Linked DNA regions of Homo sapiens: region 1 is linked to region 2. The links come from fine-mapping of genetic effects on gene expression. Tissue or cell type: whole blood. Region 2 holds a variant in brackets; the other region holds the start of a gene. All regions are shown on one strand. Distances are between the middles of the regions. Region 1 holds the start of CIMAP1A (ciliary microtubule associated protein 1A). Region 2 overlaps SIRT3 (sirtuin 3).

Region 1 (11,005 bases), 25 kb before region 2:
ACATTCCTGCCTCTGTCTCAAGTCTCCACCTGTTTTCTTTGTCTGGTTTTCCTGCTACTGCCTTAGCTCCCCAACTTGCCCCACTTAGGCTTGTGGGACCTCCTCACTGTTGGTTGAGGTACATGTGTGGTGATCAATACGAATCCACTCTGGCACCAGCCTCCTTCCCGCCATCCCAGGCACACTGACAGCGATCACGTTTGTACCTACTGCGCCTGCCTCTTTTGAATGTCCTTCTCTGCCCTAATCTGTACTTATGGTGCCAGGTTTCTCTTAAGAATGTCCCCTTTGGCCTTATCAGCATGTAGCTAGCAATATTCTGACATTTTTATTGCAGAGTGAATGATTGGGGCATCTTCAGAGGAGTTCTAGGGTGTTTCTTTCTGCATAGGTACCTCTTTTCCCTCCTACCCACAATTGACAAGTGCCCATCCACTCCAGCACTAGAGATGCTACTAATATGTGAATTTTTGGTGGTCCCTCCAGGTGAGCCTTCCCAGACTTTCCCTTTTCCAGGAGGCCCCCTCCTGTTCATGTCTAGCTACCTATCTACTCTAACAAAGCCCACTATCCTGTGTCTTTCCCAAAAATAGTGAGGGAACGATTAATTGGAAACCATAAGAAATGATATGGATATAGACGAAAACTTTACAACTTACACAAATAATCACTCAAAATCATCCTTACACTAAAAATGCAAAACTATACAATTTCTAGAAGAAACAATAGAAGAAAAGCTATCTGCCTTTGGGTTTGGTAATGAATTTTAACAAATGACACAAAAGGTAGATATACACAAAAGAAGTGACAGTGTGGATTTCTTAATATTTAAAGTTTATACTCTGGAAGAGACCTTGTTAAGAGAACAAAAAGACAAGCCACATATTGAAGAAAATATTTGCAAAATACACATCTGAGAAAGAATTTGTCTTCAAAATATATAAAAAATTATTAAAACTAAACAATAAGTTAAACAGCCCAACTAAAAATGCACACACATCTGAACAGACACCTCACCAAAGAAGATCTACAGATGGCAAGTAAACACATTGAAACCACAATGTGGTTACAATTGAAAACCACAATGAGATAGCACAGCTGGTCTATATCTGTTAGAATTGCTAAACTCTTTTAAAAATGACAAATTGCTGAAGGAAAAACAAGAACTCTTTTCATTGCCAGTGGAACACAGCGTATAAGACCAAAATACGCCACCCCAAAACCTAACCCTAACCCTAACCCCTAACCCCTAACCCTAACCCTAACCCTAACCCTAACCCCTAACCCCTAACCCTAACCCTAACCCTAACCCCTACCCCTAACCCCTAACCCTTACCGGTGACCCTACTGTATCCCTGACTCCTAACCAACGTTGATCCCTAACCCTAAACCCCTTACTGTAACTATAATCTTCATCCCACCCTATCCCTAGCCTTAGTGCCATCCCCCAGGCTTTTTCCAGGATGGGATTTTATGTGATTGTTTCGAATAGGTGGAAATCTCTGCTCATTTAGGAGTCGTTCAATGTAACAAGGATCTTGGTCTTCACAGAGACCCTAAACGCGTGTGGCCCAGGGCCATGTGGATGCCATCAGCCACTAGGTGGCAGCAGGGGCCCTTTGGATTTGAACAATGCAGCTCAGTCAGAGGGCTGGACTGGGACACCCCTACTCATGGTCTCTCTTGGCATGGTTTTGTTTGGTGACTCCAGGTGTCCCAACCTCCTGTGTCCATTGTAATATGTCCTGGGACCATCTCCCCCAGGGCCTTCAACCTGGGGGGTTGAACCCCAGGATAGCAACCCCAAGCCCTCCTTGCTATCCTGGCTACTGATGGAAGATGTACCTCAAGCCTGTCCCATTCCTCACTTCCTGCTGAGACCTGGCCCCAACATGGCCAGCTCTATGTTCCTCAGACCCTCTCAGGCCACCTTCTCTCTTCTAGGCACTGTCACTGGGCTTCTCCCCACCCCATAGATCCACAGCCCCCAGGTAGTCCTACAGCTGTGTCCACTCGTGCAGCCTGCACCCCCTTCCCCTACTCGGCCACCCCATCTGAGTAGTAAGGGGCCCCTGCCTGATTGGAGACCCCCAGATGCAGACCCAGATCACACAGCACACTGATAAGAGGAGGGATTCGCACCTTAAAAGAAAGGCGTGGGACCAACCCCAGATCCCACCACTCTCGGCCTCAAGGGCAGGCATGACTAGAGGCCCTTGGTGGCCAGGACCCACTGCCTTCTTCACCGATCAGTTGGCATGGCCTCTCACCAGTGTTCCCTCCTAACACACCTGTTCTCTCTCTCACACACCCTAAAGCCGCTTGCCAACCACCTGTCACACAGCCACTCCATGCCTGTTGCTGCTTGGCACCCACTGGGGGCCAGGGATGTGAACAAACCTCATCTAAGCTGGCTGCCGGGTCCTAATGGGCAGGTCCGGTCCGCCCTCTAGGAGAGGTGCTGTCCGGTGAGGCATAAAATCCCGGGATTCTGGCTGGAGGCAGCTCCTGAGACTGCTGGCATGAAGGGGAGCCGTGCCCTCCTGCTGGTGGCCCTCACCCTGTTCTGCATCTGCCGTGAGTCTGTGCCACTGGGGTTTCCAGAACATTCAGGGGTGGGGGGGAGTGGGGGGTACCTGAGAAGGTAAAATCCTGGCATCGGGCCTCTGCAGTGAACACTCCACCTGCTTCTGTCACAGAAGTGGGCAAGGACCCTGCAGAACCCGCGCCCACCCTACTCCACCCCAACCAAGGACAAAGCCCAGCTGACCCAACACCAGCCCAGTGTCTCCTACCCCAGCCCAGTCCAGCCTGACCTGACCCTTCAAGCCTCTGGTCATAATAGCCTCTCATCAGGGGAAATTTCCCCCACACCAGGAGCTTAACTTTCCTTCCCTGGTGATCCCAGGGAATGCTGAGTGGAAATTGGAGCAGCTAAGATTAAGGGGGATGTGGAGGGGTCTTCGGGCAAGGTGGAGTTGGAGGTGTTGTGGAGGAAGCCCTGGGGAGGAGAGGTGGGCATTGAAGGGGAAGGTCTGGAGACCATGGAGGTTGGAGCCCTGGGGCAGGTCCAGGGCTGTGGTTGCACCAGAGTCACCCTGTCCTGTCCTGGCATCATCTCGCTCGTGATGCAGGGATGGCCACAGGGGAGGACAACGATGAGTTTTTCATGGACTTCCTGCAAACACTACTGGTGGGGACCCCAGAGGAGCTCTATGAGGGGACCTTGGGCAAGTACAATGTCAACGAAGATGCCAAGGCAGCAATGACTGAACTCAAGTCCTGTATAGATGGCCTGCAGCCAATGCACAAGGCGGAGCTGGTCAAGCTGCTGGTATGAGGGCGGCGGGCACCCCATTTTCTAAAGATCTGCAGCCTTACCAAGACCACCCAACACAGCACCCACACAGCCTACCCCACCCACAGACATCCACCACCCACAGACATTGCACCCGCATCAGCCAGCTCAGGTGGACACCCCAGACCTCCTGTCCACCGAGCAGCCCCCAGACTCCATAGACCTCCTCCCCAGTCTGTGGGATACTCCTCCATGCACACATGTGAACATACACAGAGATCCAAACACAGGTGCAGACATGAAATGTACACTGCGTGCACACATGTATAAACACGTTCACACCCACATGCTCACACTGGGATATGCACACACATACATGTGTGCACACCATCACATGTGCACACACACCTCCCAGCTGCTGGGAGGAGATAGGCAGCAATATGCCAGACCCCCCCCCACTGAGGGCCTTGCTTGCCTGATGGAGCTGTGGCTCTCCACTTATTGAGCACAGCCCTCTTAGTCCACATGTGTCTGCCTTCCAGGTGCAAGTGCTGGGCAGTCAGGACGGTGCCTAAGTGGACCTCAGACATGGCTCAGCCATAGGACCTGCCACACAAGCAGCCGTGGACACAACGCCCACTACCACCTCCCACATGGAAATGTATCCTCAAACCGTTTAATCAATAAAGCCTCTTCCGCAGCTCAGGCTCCTGTCTCTGCCCCCACAGAGGGGCACACAAATGGGGACATCAGGAACACACTCGGGGCCACAGCCACACACACAGACCCACATACAGAGGATCCCACTCAAGGAGCACACGTGCGAAAGTCCCCACAGAGGGACACACAAATGGGGACATCAGGAACACAGGGCCACAGCCACACACACAGACCCACATACAGAGGATCCTACTCAAGGAGCACACGTGCGAAAGTCCCCCACAGAGGGACACACAAATGGGGACATCAGGAACACAGGGCCACAGCCACACACACAGACCCACATACAGAGGATCCCACTCAAGGAACACACGTGTGAAAGTCCCCACAGAGGTACACACAAATGGGGACATCAGGAACACAGGGCCACAGCCACACACACAGACCCACATACAGAGGATCCCACTCAAGGAACACACGTGTGAAAGTCCCCACAGAGGTACACACAGGGTCCACACAGGAGCAGGCACACCACAGGCAAGACCCAAAATGGAAATCCAGGCAGACGCCACGTAGGCAGGTGGACAGAGCACAGAGCCAGACAACACTGCGTGGTCGTCCGGAGGGGGCGTCTGGAGGGGGCGTCCGGAGGGAGACGGGCGGCAGAGGCAGCGGTATGAGGTGGGAGCCCCAGAAAGAGGAAGTGTCCAGGACTGGGTGGACACAGACCCCATGTCGCCCATGGGCTAGGTCAGGGCGGGGGTGCTCAGCATCTGAAAGCTGGTGTCGAGCCCCAAGAGGACCCCTGACAAGGCCAAGAAAAAGGTACACCCATGTCCAAGGGGGTTGGGAGCCGCAGGTGAGCAGCCTCTGAGGTCAGCCAGGGCAGCCCCAGCGCCCACACTGACTCACACCCACCACAACCAGCACAGACCCTGATCCTGACCCTGGATCCCAGACTCTCCCACAGCCAGAACCTTCCAGCATTTCAGCTGCCCAATCTATGGTCTCTTCTGGGGGCACAGCTGAGTGGAACCGCCCCATCCTTGGCCACCCTGGGTGCTGAGCCCTGACACTTCACTGCCCCGGCCCTCCTCTCCACACCTCTGTCCTGTCTGAGCCTGGCAAGGGGGCCATGCGGTGCTGTCGGCTCTGTGCTCTGTCCCACCTGCCTACATGGTATCTGCCTGGATTTCCATTTGGCTGAGGGAGCCCTAGGGAGGGGGCCCTGGAGGACTTGGTTACAGGGGACCTGGTGAGGGGACCCAGTGAGGGGGACTTCATGGGTGGGTGCCTGGTTGAGGGGACCTGGTGAAAGAAACATGGTGAGGGGGCCTGGTGAGGGGTGGTCTGGTGAGGGAACTTAGGGAAACCTGGTGAGGAGGACCTGGTGAGGGGACATGGGGGGGACCTTGGTGAGGGGACCTGGTGAGGGGACATAGGGGGACCTTGGTGAGCGGACCTGGTGAGGGGACATGGGGGGGACCTTGGTGAGGGGACCTGGTGAGGAGGACATGGGGGGGACCTTGGTGAGGGGACCTGGTGAGGGGACATGGGGGGGACCTTGGTGAGGGGACCTGGTGAGGGGACCTGGTGAGGGGACATAGGGGGGGACCTTGGTGAGGGGACCTGGTGAGGGGACATGGGGGGGACCTTGGTGAGGAGGACCTGGTGAGGGGACATGGGGGGGACCTTGGTGAGGGGACCTGGTGAGGGGACATGAGGGGGACCTTGGTGAGGGGACCTGGTGAGGAGGACATGGGGGGGACCTTGGTGAGGGGACCTGGTGAGGGGACATGGGGGGGACCTTGGTGAGGAGGACCTGGTGAGGGGACATGGGGGGGACCTTGGTGAGGGGACCTGGTGAGGGGACATGGGGGGGACCTTGGTGAGGGGACCTGGTGAGGGGACATGGGGGGGACCTTGGTGAGGGGACCTGGTGAGGGGACATGGGGGGGACCTTGGTGAGGGGACCTGGTGAGGGGACCTGGTGAGGAGGACATGGGTGGGGAGCCTTGGTGAGGGGACCTGGTGAGGAGGACCTGGTGAGGGGAACATGGTGAGGGGAACATGGTCAGGGGGACTTATAGGGGTGTCCTGTTGGGGGGACCTGGTGGTGAGATCTGGTGAGGGGATCAAAGGCAGAAGCCATTGTCTTGGTCACATAGACAGAATCTAGAACCTGTCATCCCACAGAGCCACATTCTAGAGTTTAGAGTGGGGGACCTCTCCCCAATTCTGTAAGCCCATGAGGAGAGAGGAAGGCCTTTCTCTCCATGCTCCTTTTGCGGGAACTCCCTGGCACCAAGGCCAGGGGGGAAAGGACAGTCTCTGATGAGGATGGGTCTCTAGGCTGCTCTGAGTGCTGTCCCTGCACTGAAGAAGTTATAGTTCCCTCCCAGGCGGCCCCCTCCCTGCCCCTCAGCTCAGCCTCAATCAAGAAGTTCCCCATCTTTGACCACTCCAAGTAGGAGAAACCGGCCCAGGGCTCCCTTAGAGCCGAGAACAGTGGTGAGTTAAGGGCCAGCATGGACAGCAACTCTGGGTTACAGTTAAGCTGGTGAGGAGCTCACAGACCCATGCAGAAAGCTCCTACTGTCCCTGACTCCTGGCTCCCAGCTGGAGATCCCCACTGATGCTGCAGCAGGTTCCGCAGGTCTTACCCTTCAGTGTCAGCAAGAGCAGGGTCGGGGACATCAGGGGCCGGCATGGGACAGGGCCGGGCCTCCCAGCACCTGGTAACCCTCTCACTTACGGACAGAGCTGGCCATGACGGAGGAGGTATGGATGGGTACCTGGAGGCCCCATCGCCCCCGGGGACCCATCATGGCCCTCTACAGCAGCCCTGGACCCAAGTACCTGATTCCACCAACAACAGGTAAGAGCCTGAGAGACTGTGGGAGAGGGTCAGGAGCCAGGCGGGCAGGTGGGGGTCCCGGGAAGGGCCTGGGGCTCAATCCCTGACTCCCAGCGGGGAGAAGGGCAGGTCAGGCTCCGGGCTGCTCAGGGCCCATTGCGTCCACAGGCTTCATGAAGCACACGCCCACCAAGCTGCGTGCACCGGCCTACAGCTTCCGTGGGGCCCCCATGCTCCTGGCAGAGAACTGCTCCCCAGGGCCCCGTTACAATGTAAACCCCAAGATACTGAGGACTGGCAAGGACCTTGGCCCTGCCTACTCCATCCTGGGGCGCTACCAAACCAAGACCATGCTGACTCCTGGTCCAGGTTAGTGACCCTGTCTCAGGCTCCTGCCCTGCGCAGCCTCAGGCCTGCCCCTCCCTGCTGGGTGCCCCTAACCTCATGTCAGCAAGGGTGTGGGAGAGCTCAGCCATCCTGGCCCCTCCCGTCCCATCTTTCTCTCTTGAGGGGTCACCATCGTGCCTGGGCAGAGAAGACTCTGGCCCAAGAGTCCAGCTCCGACCTGGACCTTTCTCTGCCAGGCCGACGTCAGACCCCACTCTCCCTGCTCAAAAATAGCCTTTGTCTCACCAGCCCTGAAGTCAGCATTTCCATCCTGGACACCCCCTGACCCGACTTGGTCACCACCTGTGTTGGAGCCCAGAGGCCCCACGCCTAGAATGTTGGGGAGTCCTCCTTGAGCCCCCAAACTGGGCTGCATACCCACCTGCTTGTCCCAGCAGCCCCCTTGGCTCCTTGTCCAGGTGACTACTTTCCAGAGAAATCCACCAAGTACGTGTTCGACTCAGCACCCAGCCACTCCATCTCTGCCCGGACAAAGGCATTCCGAGTGGACAGCACCCCAGGTCCGCAGCAGCCCCAACCATCCTCAGCCAAATGGACCTGGGGATCCTGGGTGGGGTGTGTGACATGGGGCAGCCCGACGGCTGATCTCCAGAGTTGGGGGAGAGCCCCAGGGAAGGAGCAGTGGGCCCTGTTCCGGCCTGAGGCTCCACGTCCACCCTGCAGGCCCCGCTGCGTACATGCTGCCCATGGTAATGGGGCCCAATACCGTCGGCAAGGCCTCCCAGCCCTCCTTTTCCATCAAGGGCCGCAGCAAGCTGGGCGGCTTCAGCGACGACCTACACAAGGCAAGGGCCACCCCAACTGAGAACAGAGAATCACCCCCAACCATCTGAACCCTCCCCCGGAACCCAGGACCCACCAGTTCGGCCCTGCCTTGCCAATGCCCCTCAGCCCCCTCAGCCCTTCACCCTCTGGGCACCTGCCACGTGCTGGGGTTACACTGCAGTGGTGAGGAGGGGCAGGCAACAGGCCAGAAGGGAGACGCCCTGGCCCCAGCATGGACCGTGCTGAGGACAAGAGATGGGGTTTAGGAAGCACTGTCTGGAGAGAGAGAGGCAATCTTAGATAGGGTAGCATGGAAAGAAGAGGAGGAGGAAAAAATAAACCATGAGCTATTTGGGGGAGGAGGGTCCTGGTTTCAGAAACAGCCAGTGCAAAGCCCCTGGGTGGCACATGCCTGAGAGCTTGAGGGGCCTGAGATGGGGAAGCAGCATCATGGCACCCAACAGCCCTCGTCCATGTTGATTTTGCCAGCCCCAGGCCCTCAGGTCCAACAGGGCAGCAACAGCCTCTCTCACACACGCTCAGCGATGTTCCCAGGACTGGCACACACTGGGGATGCCATTGCCAGCGTGAGGCTGAAATGGAGGAAGTGACCCCCACATGAGGTACCCCACAAGCAGTGGGGTGTGATCTCCACAGTGTGACAGAAGACAGAAGGGGACCTTGATGCACGGGCACCAACTTGTAGCTGACCCTGTTGACTCAGAGCCTGAGTTTGCTCCCTGTCCTCTAGGGCCACACGCCCTGGGTAGGCCGAGTTGGTCTGAGCCTCCTTTACCTCTCAGACCCCAGGTCCCGCAGCCTACCGCCAAACTGATGTGCGGGTGACCAAGTTCAAGGCTCCGCAGTACACCATGGCTGCCCGTGTGGAGCCCCCAGGGGACAAGACCCTCAAGCCAGGACCAGGCGCCCACAGCCCTGAGAAGGTCCAGGAAGAGCACAGCTCAGAGGGGTCAGGGTGGGGCAGGGTCCTGGCCCAGAGGGATGTGTAGGAAAGAGCAGGGAGGGGGGCTGGGACACAGACGAGGGGAAACAGGGTCAGGCTATGGAAGGACACAGCCAAGAAGGGGTGGAGGGGTGGGGTGGGGATGGGAGGCACCTGCACCCTGAGGACCCTGTACATTTCCAGCACTAGGCCCACAGGTAACCCTTCAGGGACATGGAAGCAGAGACCCTGCCCTTTTCCCTAGACACTGTGACAGCTACTACTGCTGAGTGCTCTGTGTTCAAACCTGGGAGCATAGCTTCTGGCCACCTTGGCCCCAGGTTCAGGAAGGACAGCAGCCCAGCCCCAGCCAGGGCAGAGACCTGCAGGTGGGGGCAGGGGTGCTGGTTCCTATCATAGCCCCTCCTCTCCCAGGTGACCCTGACCAAGCCCTGCGCCCCAGTTGTCACCTTCGGCATCAAACACTCTGATTACATGACTCCCCTGCTGGTTGATGTGGAATAACGCCAGCCCTGCTGTGCCCCATCACACCCGGCATCTACACAAGATCCGCCGGGCCACAGAGCTCGAGGCTGTCTTCACCAGCTGGGCTGGGCCAGCCTGGCCCTGCAGGGCAGAGCACGCTTGTTTGGGCAATTGTAATCAGTTACTTTTTTTCTATGCTATTTTACCATTTTTTAATCTTGTTTTCTGCTGTGCCCAAATTATTAATAAATCAGATTGCATTAATAAGGGTTTGTCTTGGTGGAAGGATCAAGCATTTCCAGAAAGGAGCCCCCGTAGGCTGTCAGCACTTGCCCACAAGGGGTCCCATCCTGCCTTCTAGGGCCCAGGGTCAGCTTGGTGAGATGGGAGGGCCCAGGGTCTGTGTGGGGAGAGATGGTAGGGCCTGAGTACCTCAGACACCCTGCTCCACACTGTCCCTCCTGATGCTTTCTGCCTTGAACCCAAAGATGGCCACACCTGTGCTCATCACCTCTGAGCAATGCTGGGTCCCTTCCCTTGAATCTGGACTATAGCCTGTGGGTGTCCTGAGTAATGAGGTATGGCAGAAGTGATGCCACCAGGCTCCTGAGGCCACGCACACAACATACCAAGGAAACAGCTTCCGCCTGGACACCAGAGCCCACCCCACCCCCACCCTTCTGCCACGTGTCCATGTTTGCTCCAGCACCAGCCATCATGTTGTGAGGAAGCTCAACCATGGCGAGACTGAATGCACCATCCCAGGCAGTCGGCCCGGCCACAGGCAGTCGTCAGCCCGGCCACAGGCAGTCAGCCCGGCCAGGCCCTCCACTCACCAGCACTGACCTCTGGACCTGTGAGTGAGCCTTCAAGTGAAGGCAGCCCCAGGACCACATCTCCCAGTGAGGCCTCGACACTGTAGAGCAAAGACAGCCAACCCTGAAGCGTGCCCCGTCTCAAATTCAATGAGACATGATAAATCATTGCTATTTTAGGTGAAGTTTTAGGGTGACCTGTTACACATCAATGGGTCATACAGGGAGTACAAGGAAGACATGGACAGGGAAGGTGGGGTATCCGCTGGGCCTGAAGAGGAGGATTTCCAGAGGCTGCCCAAGAGTCCAAGGCCAGGCCTCAAGAAGTGGAGTCTGGATTTCAACTCAGGCTTTCAGGGAGGTCACTTTAGGACGGGTGACCTCAACAGACACACTGGTAGGACCATCACCTGCACCTGTATAAAGCACAGTACAACTGCTGACCTTCACTTCGCTGTGATCGTGCCAGGCTGTGTATTCGAAGCACTTCATGTTTACTCTCTTTTTTTTCTTTTTTTTTCTGAGACAGAGTCTCGCTCTGTCGCCCAGGCTGGAGTGCAATGGCACAATCTCAGCTCGCTGCAACCTCCGTCTGCCAGGTTCAAGCAATTCTGCTGCCTCAGCCTCCTGAGTAGCTGGGATTATAGGCACGTGCCACCACACCCAGCTAATTTTTGTATTTTTAGTAGAGACGGGGTTTCACCATGTTGGTCAGGATGGTCTCGAACTCCTGACCTTGTGATTCACTCACCTTGACTTCCCAAAGTGTTGAG
Region 2 (11,243 bases):
CCCCTCGTGTGACCATAGATTGAGATTTATACCACATACCACACATAGCCACAGAAACATCATCTTGAAATAAAGAAGAGTTTTGGACAAAAATGTATGTGTAAATTATCAAATAAAGGGGCCAGGCACAGTGGCTCATGCCTGTAATCCCAGCACTTTGGGAGGCCGAGGTGGGTGGATCACTTGAAGCCAGGAGTTCGAGACCAGCCTGGCCAACATAGCAAAACCTTGTCTCTATTACAAATATGCCCATGTGCTAGGTGTGGTGGGACACACCTGTAATCCCAGCTACCCAGGAGAATCGCTTAAACCCGGGAGGCGGAAGTTGCAGTGAGCTGAGATCATAACACCGCACTCCACCCTGAGTGACAGGGCAAGACTCAAAAAATAAAAAAGGAACATTAACTAGGGTTAGAAACTAACTTCATTCTTTTTAGAATTCAACAGTTTTCCTAGGTCACCAATTCCACCTTTTGTTCTTATTAAGGCGCAAAGTCACAGGACCCCCTTCCTGGGAGTCACTGTCATTAAATCTATTGCCGTCAGCTCAGCCCAGGGTAGGCAAGGTTCAAGAATGGGAAGTGCTTTTGTCTGGGGAAACACGCAGGTAATGTGATGCTAGGAAGGAGGATGTGCAGGTGGGTGAGAGCCCAGGAGGGAGCAGCTGGTGCCTGACAGGGTGAGCCATCAGGGCTGGGCCTGGGTACAGCCCCAGGAGAAGGAGCCTGTGCAGAAGTAGCAGTTCAGTGGATTCCACCTCCTATGTCACAATCCAGCAGGTGGCCAGGACTCAGCCTGGGTTTTAAGTGAGTAATGCCTTCCCTGTCTCAGAGATTAGCTCTAACAGTGTCACTAGAGGAAGCCCTGGCGAGGGTGGGGGGGCGTAGTGTGGGGACAAGGAGGCCAGATAGAAAGTGCTGGAATGTTCTGGAACAGATCTGTTTCTGGAGGAGAGGCTGAGTATGGAGAGTCAACAGAATGTGACCACCTTCAGAGGGAGGAGCTGGGCCGTCTCCAATAAATCCAGGGACAAATGCCTTCAGTCCTCAGACTGTTCCAATAGAGGGGACGCCACGTATCCCAGGGTTCCCTTTCCAACTCATGTCAACACCTGCAGTCCCTTTGAGGAGACTAAATGTATTTCATGCTGGAAAGAACAGATTTTCTCTCATTAAAAATAGCCCCACTAAAGGAGACCAACATGCTAGAAGTGCGGCACCAGGGCCTCAAGACTACACTTCGGAACATGAAGAGGGCTGGGGACCGCTCGGCCCAAGTCTGGATCTTGTAACCAACAGATGCCGAGCTTGCCGTTCAACTAGGCACAGAAAGCAGACTCGGTCTGGGATTCCAGTTGGTCTGATTCAGTTCAAGAGGGTCACAGTCAGAAGAAAGCTTTTTCCATTAGGAGCTTCAGCAGAGTGAAGAGTTCAACACAGCAAACAGGCAGGCAGCTCCTTTGTATATGTGACGGGGTGGCCCTGACTGTAAACACAGCCCTACCAGTCACTGCAGCTCATGGCCTGAGAAGACATTCCAGTGGCAGCCTCGGGTGTCCACTCAGTTCACATATTCTGGTTTCACCTGCCCAAGCTGTCTTCAGGCATGAGGTCTTGTCAGAATTGGGATGTGGATGTCTCCTATGTTACCATTTATTGTGTGGGGGCAGCCATCATCCTATTTGTCTGGTCCATCAAGCTGGAATACAGAAGACAGAGGGTATCAGCTATCTGTTTACACACCCAGGCAGGCCAGCAGATCTCTGTTCAAACAGCTCTAGCTGCAGACATGCAAAATATTTCACAAAACAAGCTGCTTTCTGCAAATACTGCTGCTGCTGTGCTGGGCTAAGAGGATCCCAGCAGGCCTGGGCAGAACAGGGTGGCTAAATGGAGAGCCTCATTCTATGGGTCTTAAAGTACCCAAATCAATATGTACTGATGCTCATGTGCTTAAAAGCATTCACTATTTGGAAAAGTAACCCCTTGGATAGTAATGCTGTAAAAAACAGAAAATGAAATCATAACCCATTTTACATACATTTCTCTGAAACTAGATTATACAGTTCAAATCCTATTAAGCCACTTCCAAAACTCCACAGGAGCTACCAGAGTTACAATCTGCTTTTCTATGAAAACAGGAAGTTGGGCCGGGCCTGCTGGCTCATGCCTATAATCCCAGCACTTTGGGAGGCTGAGGCAGGTGGATCACCCGAGGTCAGGAGTTTGAGACCAGCCTGACTAACATGATGAAATCCCATCTCTAATAAAAGTACAGAAATTAGCCAGGCATGGTGGCACATGCCTGTAATCCCAGCTGCTCAGGAGGCTGAGGCAGGAGAATCACTTGAACCCAGGAGGCAGGGCTGCAGTGAGCCAAAATCGTGCCATTGCACTCCAGCTTGGGCAACAAGAGTGAAACTCCATTACAAAAAAAAGAAAATATGAAGTTGGAGCAGGAAAAGGATCCCTCAAAAAAGCCTGCTGGGCTGATCTAAGATCTCCGCTGCCTTGTGAGCTGGCCAGGAGGCACTCGCCTCTCAGCGTTTAAGCCTCATTGTTAGCTGGGTTCCCTGCCTCCATAATGAAGTGACCATGATTGGTAAAAAATCAGCCTGCAACCAGAGGTTGGAGGTCTTGGACTGGTGGAGGTGAGGAGAGTGCTGACCCCATGGCCCTGAGCCATGAGGCAGCCACAGCTGTGGACAAGGAAAAAGGATCAGGATTTCCTAAGACATCTGCCTTGGAAGGCAAGAGGAGCATCAACTGTGATATATTGTAGTTGATATGGTTTGGCTGTGTCCCCACCCAAATCTCACCTTGAATTGTAATCATCCCCATGTGTCAAGGGTGGGGCCAAGTGGAAGTAACTGAATCATGGGGGCGGGTCTTTCCCACACTCTTCTTCTGATAGTGAATAAGTCTCACAAGATCTGATAGTTTTATAAAGGGCAGTTCCCCCGCACACGTCCTCTTGCCTGCCACCTTGTAAGACAGTACTTTGCTCCTGCTTTGCCTTCCACTATGATTGTGAGGCCCCCACAGCCATATGGAACTGTGAGTCCATTAAACCTCTTTCCTTTATAAATTACCCAGTCTCAGGTATGCCTTTATGAGCAGCCAGAGAACAGACTAATACACTGGTGAAATCCCCTTTGGACAGTGTTACACCTGCCTGTAATCATGACACTGGACTTTAAATGCTTAATGCTACCACCTCCCATTGAAAACCCTTAATATCAAGGCTACACATGCTACATGATTCTTATGGGAAACTGCATTTTCTGTAACTTCACTTGTTTATAGGCGGTTTGAAATCTCTTAGAAAGCATCAAGGCTCTTTGGCTTTCCTCAGCGGATTATAATTGATCAATGGCTCTCATACCAATTACTTCCGAAAAGCATCACTCATGTAGCCTTCATCCCACATAGATGCAGAGAACTTTAGCTTCTCAAAGTTCTTTAACCCGTATCATCTTAGAATCACATACCAGGCCTTAGAGGGACACTGTTGGCTGCTTTATTTTAGGGAGTGAAGGTAACGCCTATAGTCTGTTAAGAATACAGACTCATCAGCCCTGAGTGTCTGGACCGTGTCCCTGCTTGGCCTGTTAGCATCTGTTTCCTCATCTCTAAATGGAGGTATTGAAAGTAACACCCAGTCAGGTCCAGGTAGTGCCTGGTGCAGGATTCACAGCATCATCAGCTATTACTGTTACTGTGTTAACCAACGGGGCTCCATATCAGGTGGACCATACCCTAGAGCAGTGAGAAGGGCAGCCCCTTGGATGGTCCTCCTCAGCAGTCTGTACCTTCCCAGTTTCCCGCTGCACAAGGTCCCGCATCTCTTCTGTCCAGCCCAGAAGCTCCACTAGGCTTTCCACGCCGTGAACCACGTCCCCCAGCTGGGCCACGTCCCTGCTGCGAGGATGCCAAGCCAAGGGCCCCACCAAGTCCCGGTTGATGAGCAGTCGGGGAACTGAGCTCCGCACGGCCTCGGTCAAGCTGGCAAAAGGCTCCACCTGAAAAATGGGCCAAACGTGAGGGGCACAGTGTCCACTTTACAAGCTCCTCAGGATGTTTCATGCCACAGCCACCGAGGCCTTGGAGGAGCAGCAGATTGGCAGTCAGAGCCTGCGATATAGGGAAAACCCACCACCAATCTCATTTCTTCAGCTGAGCTCCTGCCGCTTGGCCTCCGTGACGGTTTTCTCCCCTCCGCCTCTCTCTCTCTCTCCCACTTCTTGCTGTTTCCACACATCCTTGCTTTTCCCCACCTCCGTTCCAAGGCTCATCAGGGATCCAACCTTCCTGCCTCCTCTTTGTGAGCACGTTCTGTTCTCCCTGTCCTCCCCACCTCGCTGTCTCCCAGCATGACGCAGAGGGACAACAGCACAGACTCGTCCATCTCCTCTGGCTAGCCCTGCTTGCTCTGACAGCCACCACCAGCATCGGGCACCCAGACGAGCTGGTGCCCCCGAGCAGGAGTTACTGTTACGTCTCTCCATGGTCTTCCCCACCCAGCCTCTAGAGAGGCCTAGCTCGGTGCCATCAGGCTTCTTCATACAGCTCTCAAAGCTTCTTTTAAGAGGAACAAGGTAAAAAAATGGATACATTAATAAATGGCATTAAAACTGGCTCATTATCTGGGAGGAAAATACTCCATTCCTACCTCCCACTGAAAAAAATTCAAATGGATTAAAGGTTTCAATGTAAACAAAACAGTTCTTGAAGAAAACTAAGGATTTACAAGTAAGGATAGGGAAGAACGTTCTAGGCGTAAAAACTGAAGTCAGATAAGGCAAAGGAAAATGACAGATCTGACTATGTAAATACTATTATCTCGGTATCTACATAAAACTACTATGTAGAAAATTTAAAATTTTTAAAAACCTCTCATCATCATAAACTGCAAAAATATTTACAACATATGACAATAGTTTATATTGCTAATTGATAAACTCATTTATAAACATATAATTTATGAACTAATTTATAATGCTAATTTATAATGAAATTTATATTAACAGCTGGGCATGGTGGTTCACACCTATAATCCCAGCACTTTGGGAGGCCGAGGCGGGCAGATCAGCTGAGGTCAGGAGTTCAAGACCAGCCTGGCCAACATAGTGAAACCACGTCTCTACTAAAAATACAAAACTTAGCTGGGCGTGGTGGCACGCACCTATAATCCGAGCTACTCGGGAGGTTGAGGCAGGAGAATGGCTTGAGCCTGGGAGGTGGAGGTTGCAGTGAGCCGAGATCGCGCCACTGAACCTCCAGCCTGGGAGACAGAGCAAGACTCTGTCTCAAAAAAAAAAAAAAAAAAAAGAAAGAAGTTTATATTAACATTAAAATGTAATTATATTATTTAATTTATACTAAAATTAAAACTAATTTATATTGCTAATTTATAATGACCCAATGAAAAATGGTCAAGAGGTACAAATATACAATCCAAAGAGAAGAAACACAACTGGCAATAAACATGAAAAGATGAACTTCATTCTTTACTACAGAAAGGCAAAATCCGCACCCCCCTCCACACACACACATGCATTTTTTAACCAATTTGATTTGTGTGATTTTGGTTTTGGTGAGGATGTGATAAAATGGCTACATAAAAACACAGTTTGTGGCAGTGTAATTGTTACATCTTTCTGGAAGGCAAGTTCTCAATATTTATCAGCATTTACCCTTCAGGAGTTCTTGCATGGGTAGATAAGGATGATACACAGGGATATTCACCACAGCATTTACCCTTCAGGAGTACTTGCATGGGTAGATAAGGATGACACACAGGGATATTCACCGGAAGGCAAGTTCTCAGTATTTATCAGCATTTACCCTTCCAGAGTACTTGCATGGGTAGATAAGGATGATACACAGGGATATTCACTACAGCATTTACCCTTCAGGAGTACTTGCATGGGTAGATAAGGATGACACACAGGGATATTCACCGGAAGGCAAGTTCTCAGTATTTATCAGCATTTACCCTTCCAGAGTACTTGCATGGGTAGATAAGGATGATACACAGGGATATTCACTACAGCATTTACCCTTCAGGAGTACTTGCATGAGTAGATAAGGATGATACACAGGGATATTCACTACAGCACGGGATCTCATTCTGTTACCCAGGCTGGAATGCAGTGGCATGATCATAGTTCACTATAACCTCAAATTCCTGGGCTCAAGCAATCCTCCTTCCTCAGCCTCTCAAATAGCTGCAACTACACAGACCATGCCTGGCTATCTTTTTATTTTTTGTAGAGACGAGGTCTGACTATACTGCCCAG[G/T]CTGGTCTCAAATGCCTAGCTTCAGGCAATCTTCCTGCCTTGGCCTCCCAGAGTGCTGGGATAACAGGTGTGAGCCACGGTGCCTGGCCCAGCATTACTTTTAATGTAAAAATTATATACTATTTATTATCATTGTCCATCAGTAAGAAATTGCTTACATAAATTTTGTATTAAATCCACAAAATCTATGTTAAAGCTCTTGTGGCTGAATATGTTTCAGAATTTTTGAGATTTTAGAAAAGATCATATGGTTTACATCCCACGTTATGTCACACCTAAAGGGGATCTGGAGTGGTACTCCACAGTCAAACACATTAACATTTCGTCCACAAAGCACATGAGATAGAGTCTGTGCGTGACACCAGCTCATTCAGTTCATGATGGCACCAGCCTTACAGACATGGGTTTCTCAGTTGGGACCTCATATCCGTGTAAGGGAAACTGTTGGCATTAACAACGCAGCACATCTCCATGGACTCACATTGTTACGTGAAAACAGCAGGCTGCAGAATAGAATGTACAGTGCTGTCCAACTTTTAGTTTAAAATTACCATCTGTACGTATGCATTTGTACAAAAAAAAGAAAGCTGAGAGGACACAGAATAAAATGCTAACAGTTGGTGGGATTAAAAAGTTGATCCTTTGCTTTATATCTTTATATAATGTACGAATCTTTTCAAAGACACACATGATACACTTATAATCAGGAAAAAGGCCATTTTCATTTCACTTCAACAATAAAGATGGCTGGTGGCCCAAGTGTCCACACCTGGTGGCCAGCACGGTCAGCTGGTCTCAGCCCACACTGTGCTGACCACCATGGCCCCTCTGACTGCTCCTCCTGTGTCTGTCCCTCCATCCTAGGCCTAGCATGGCATTCTCATGTCTGTCCACACCCTGGGCTCTCCTGTCTGCTCACTCCAGCACCCCAGCTCCTGCCTCTGGGCCTTCCTGGACTCCAGACTCATGTCCACCTGCTCAACACCTCCAGTCCGCAGCACATCCTCAAATCCGTGGAAACAAGGCTGAGTTCCTGAGCTCCCCCAAACCCACCTACCAGGCTTCTCCATCTCAGGAAGCGGCGGCTCCGTCTTTCCAGCTGCTCCAGCCACAGCCCTGGGGTCCTTGGGAATCCACGGCCTCCCATGCACTGTGCCAGCGTACCCACTCTGCGTTCACACACACCCAGACTCCAGCACCCCTCAGCCTCTGCTGGCTTTACCTGGCCCCCAGCCAGTGCCAGCCGGTGATTACCTACAAGGGCCCTGCTGGGTCTGCTGCTCCCAGTCTTGCCCCCATGGTGGGCTCACAGCCCAGCACCCAACGGAGTCCTCTCAACTTCAGACTCTGGCCTGGAACCCAAGCTGAACCCATTCACCTTCTGAGGTGGCGCCAGCCTCCCATGAGATGACACTTGTGCCCCACCTTCTTCTCTGCTCCAGCCCCGTGGCCATCAATGCTGACTTCGCCCCACCCTCCTTGCTGCTTGTCACCTGTGCAGTGTCCCCTGCCAGACCCTCCTCACCTCGGTAAACTCTTAGATCCAACTCCACCTGCCTGACTTGACACTGCAGCTGGTTCCCAACCCTTCTAGCCTTTCTATCCTACTTGTTATCTTTCTCATAACATCAATCATCTCCTAACAAACTATATAACTTCTTACACTGACATCTGACCGTGTATGTCCAAAGCACTGGAGCAGGGCCCAGCACACAATGAATGCCTGAACAAACACATGCTCTGGGCCCCTGTGGCTGCCCTGGGCCCCTCTGAGCACAGGTCTTTCTGGCCCTTCTGTCCTCGGTGCCTACATCCAGTCACGCACACACTGACTTCATGGTCTCATTTCTTGCTCTCATCACAGCTTTTAGGAATTTCCTGAGCTGCAGACGCAGACGCAGAACAGCTGCTTGAACACATCCAGGGCATGTTTCCCGACACCTCAGACACACACAGAACCGAGCTGGGCATCCTCCCTCCCAAATCACGCCTCACCAGCAAGTGCCCTGACCTTACAGACCAAGCCAGACGCCTCCTTCTCACGTCCCCAAAACATCACAGACTGCGAGTCCAGTCCCCCTCCTCGCCATCCCTCAGGCGACCACAGCTCCACCTTCTCCAGGACCAGCCTCCTGGCACTGCTTGCTCCACTCTCCACTCCCCAAAGGCCTCCCTGACCCCAAGGGTGCAGCTACGTCCCCGGGCCAGTCCCTGTGGATTTATCACTCCTCCCACTGCAGCATCAGTATTCCTGATCTGACCTGGGAGGCCCTGCCCCTCCACCTCGCCCCCACACCCCCATCCTTCTCCCTTCTCCTCACACGTGGTGCCCCACCCACACCTATACCACCTCCAAAGCCCAGCAGCTTCCCACCTTCCTGTCTCCTGCACAGGCTGCTGCTCCCTCAGCCTGGAACCCCAGCTGAATCCATTCACCTTCCCAAAGTGGCACCAGCCCTGGAAGGGCCCATGAGATGACTCCTGTACCCCTCCCTTCCCCTGCCCTCCAGCCTCCTCCCTGCACAGGCCTGCCGACAGCCCATGAGATGACTCCTGTACCCCTCCCTTCCCCTGCCCTCCAGCCTCCTCCCTGCACAGGCCTGCCGACAGCCCATGAGGTGACTCCTGTACCCCTCCCTTCCCCTGCCCTCCAGACTCCTCCCTGCACAGGCCTGCCGACAGCCCATGAGATGACTCCTGTACCCCTCCCTTCCCCTGCCCTCCAGCCTCCTCCCTGCACAGGCCTGCTGACAAACCTCCAGGGAGGTCCCAAGGATGAGCAGCAGATCTGCCATGGGGAAATCAACCACATGCAGCAAGAACCTCTGGGGCAGCGGCTCCCCAAAGAACACAATGTCGGGCTTCACAACGCCGGTGCAGACCGGGCAGCGGGGAACCCTGTCTGCCATCACGTCAGCCTGGAAAACAGAGAAAACAGGCCTGAGGAAGATGCCTGCAACACCCTGTAAAAGGAAAAGGCAACAAGTTCTTATTAAAGTCTCAAACATTCTCCCCCAAAAAAGGTGAGAGAGGGATCATGAACCCCCATGTACCCAGCTTCAGGAATTACCAGTTTTCATAGCTAATTGTTTCACAGCCCTCCGGAATCTGGGAGGAGGTATTGGAGCCTTTAAAAGCAAATCTTGGACATCATATGTTTCACCCATAATTACTTCGGCAGGCATCTAGCGTATCTAACACCATGCTCTATCCCTGGGATGGCAGCCAGAGACATCCAGGCGCTAAGGAAACACCTGGTAGACCACACCAGTCCTCAAACAGTAGTCTGCAGGCATTTGGCCTACACCGAACACTATTCAGTCAGAAAGGTGAAACTGTCTCTGGTTTGAGCTTCGGTGATCATGCCATTGCCTCAGCCCTGGGAGGCATTCAGGTCAGCTTCACTCACTGGCTGGCATTATTAGGAGTAACAACATCTGCCAAACACTGCTTCCTTACTGGCCAAGGTGAAGTGGACACAACTTCCCTTTGCGTCAAGATTAATATAAATAAATGCCTTGGAGCAGATGGAAAAGGGAGAGAGTTACAGAGGAAGACACCTGACTTTCTAAGGTAAACCTTTACAGCTAACGGGGCTTGTTTTAAGCAGGCTCAGCCCAGCAAAAAGCAACAGATACAAAAGACAAAAGAAAGAGACCCACGAAAGATTTCAGATATTCTTGGATACACAGTAAAACTGTATTATATTTAAATTAAAAAGAAAAAACTGTTATCTTGGAGGCATGGGGTATAGCAAAAAAAAAAATTAAGGAAGCAAAAAAAAAAGATGAACTTGAAATATCTATCAAAGGCCAGGCGCAGTGGCTCAGCTCTGTAATCCCAGGACTTCGGGAGGCCGAGGTGGGCAGATCACGAGGTCAGGAGATCGAGACTGTCTTGGCCAACATGGTGAAACCCTGTCTCTACTAAAACACAAAAAATTAGCCAGGCGTGGTGATGCGTGCCTGTAATCCCAGCTACTTGGGAGGCTGAGGCAGGGGAATCACTTGAACCTGGGAGGCGGAGGTTGCTGTGAGCTGAGATTGCACCACTGCACTCCAGCCTGGGCAACAAAGCGAGACTCTGTCTCAAAAAACAAAACAAAACAAAACAAAACAAAAAACTATCTATTAAAGATATAAAATTATTAAAAAATTATGTAATAATGTAGCAGACTTGAAAAATAACCAAATAGAACTTCTAGAAATAAAAAGTACAGGAACCAAAATTAAAACTCAATGTCTGTTTTGAGTTGCTGTTTGGGAAAAAAGAAAGAAAGAAACACTCAATGGAAGGACCTTATAACAGAATACAATATTAGTAAACTGGAAAAAAGACCAGAAGAAATTACCCAGAATGCAGCACAAGAAGCAGCAATTACAGGACAGAAGAGTGATCAGGAACAGCAGGAGAGAGAAGGTCTAATGTATGTTCAATCAGAGGTCCCTAAAGAGAGGGGCCAGATAGTGGGCTAGGGGCAACTCATATCCGAAGAGATAACGGCAGAGTATGATCCAGCAACCATGAAAGACGCCAACCCGCAGATTCAGGATCTCAAGCAAGTGAGGGCTACTGAGCCAGCCTGAGGGTGCCCACAGGAAAAACATGAGTCACGGCACATCTGTGCTTGTTTCTGTCCCAAGAGGTTCTCAGGAGGTTTAGTAATTACATGTGGTCCTTCAAAGAGGGAGGGTGGCTGTGAGGTGAGTGGTTACGTACTTGTGAGACTTCAGTAAGTGCCCAGTAAATGTACATTTTACCTAAGATAGAAGGAAACAGAGGAAGAGAACTAAGCAGACCTCTCAGGGAAGGGTGAAGGAACCATTAATCTCATCTTGTCTTTAATCTGTATCTGGGAAGATAAACCAGTAATCCACATTAGCAGTGTAGAGTCTTTGAAAAGGGCTGGTTTCTGTTTAGCCCTTAGTGAAGAAGCCTAATG

Evidence for each region.
Region 1: it holds the start of CIMAP1A, and the variant in region 2 is fine-mapped to the expression of CIMAP1A in whole blood (INTERVAL, PIP above 0.99).

Annotation. Positions count from the first base shown.
Region 1 is chr11:190,578-201,582 of GRCh38, forward strand. It overlaps CIMAP1A (ciliary microtubule associated protein 1A), which reads left to right and starts at 6,184. Exons shown (of 7, transcript NM_053280.5): 1 at 6,184-6,469; 2 at 6,720-6,836; 3 at 6,984-7,184; 4 at 7,622-7,723; 5 at 7,887-8,008; 6 at 8,792-8,932; 7 at 9,367-9,681. The coding sequence starts at 6,728. The coding sequence ends at 9,456. It overlaps SCGB1C1 (secretoglobin family 1C member 1), which reads left to right and starts at 2,501. Exons shown (of 3, transcript NM_145651.3): 1 at 2,501-2,577; 2 at 3,135-3,334; 3 at 3,841-3,998. The coding sequence starts at 2,523. The coding sequence ends at 3,873.
Region 2 is chr11:215,021-226,263 of GRCh38, forward strand. It overlaps SIRT3 (sirtuin 3), which reads right to left. Exons shown (of 7, transcript NM_012239.6): 5 at 9,058-9,219; 6 at 3,812-4,021; 7 at 10-1,698. The coding sequence ends at 1,678. RIC8A (RIC8 guanine nucleotide exchange factor A) reads left to right here. Exons shown (of 10, transcript NM_001286134.2): 10 at 1-93. Among named protein-coding and RNA genes, the nearest start is that of MIR6743, 11 kb to the left of the region's middle. The variant G/T (reference allele first, on the strand shown) is at 6,302.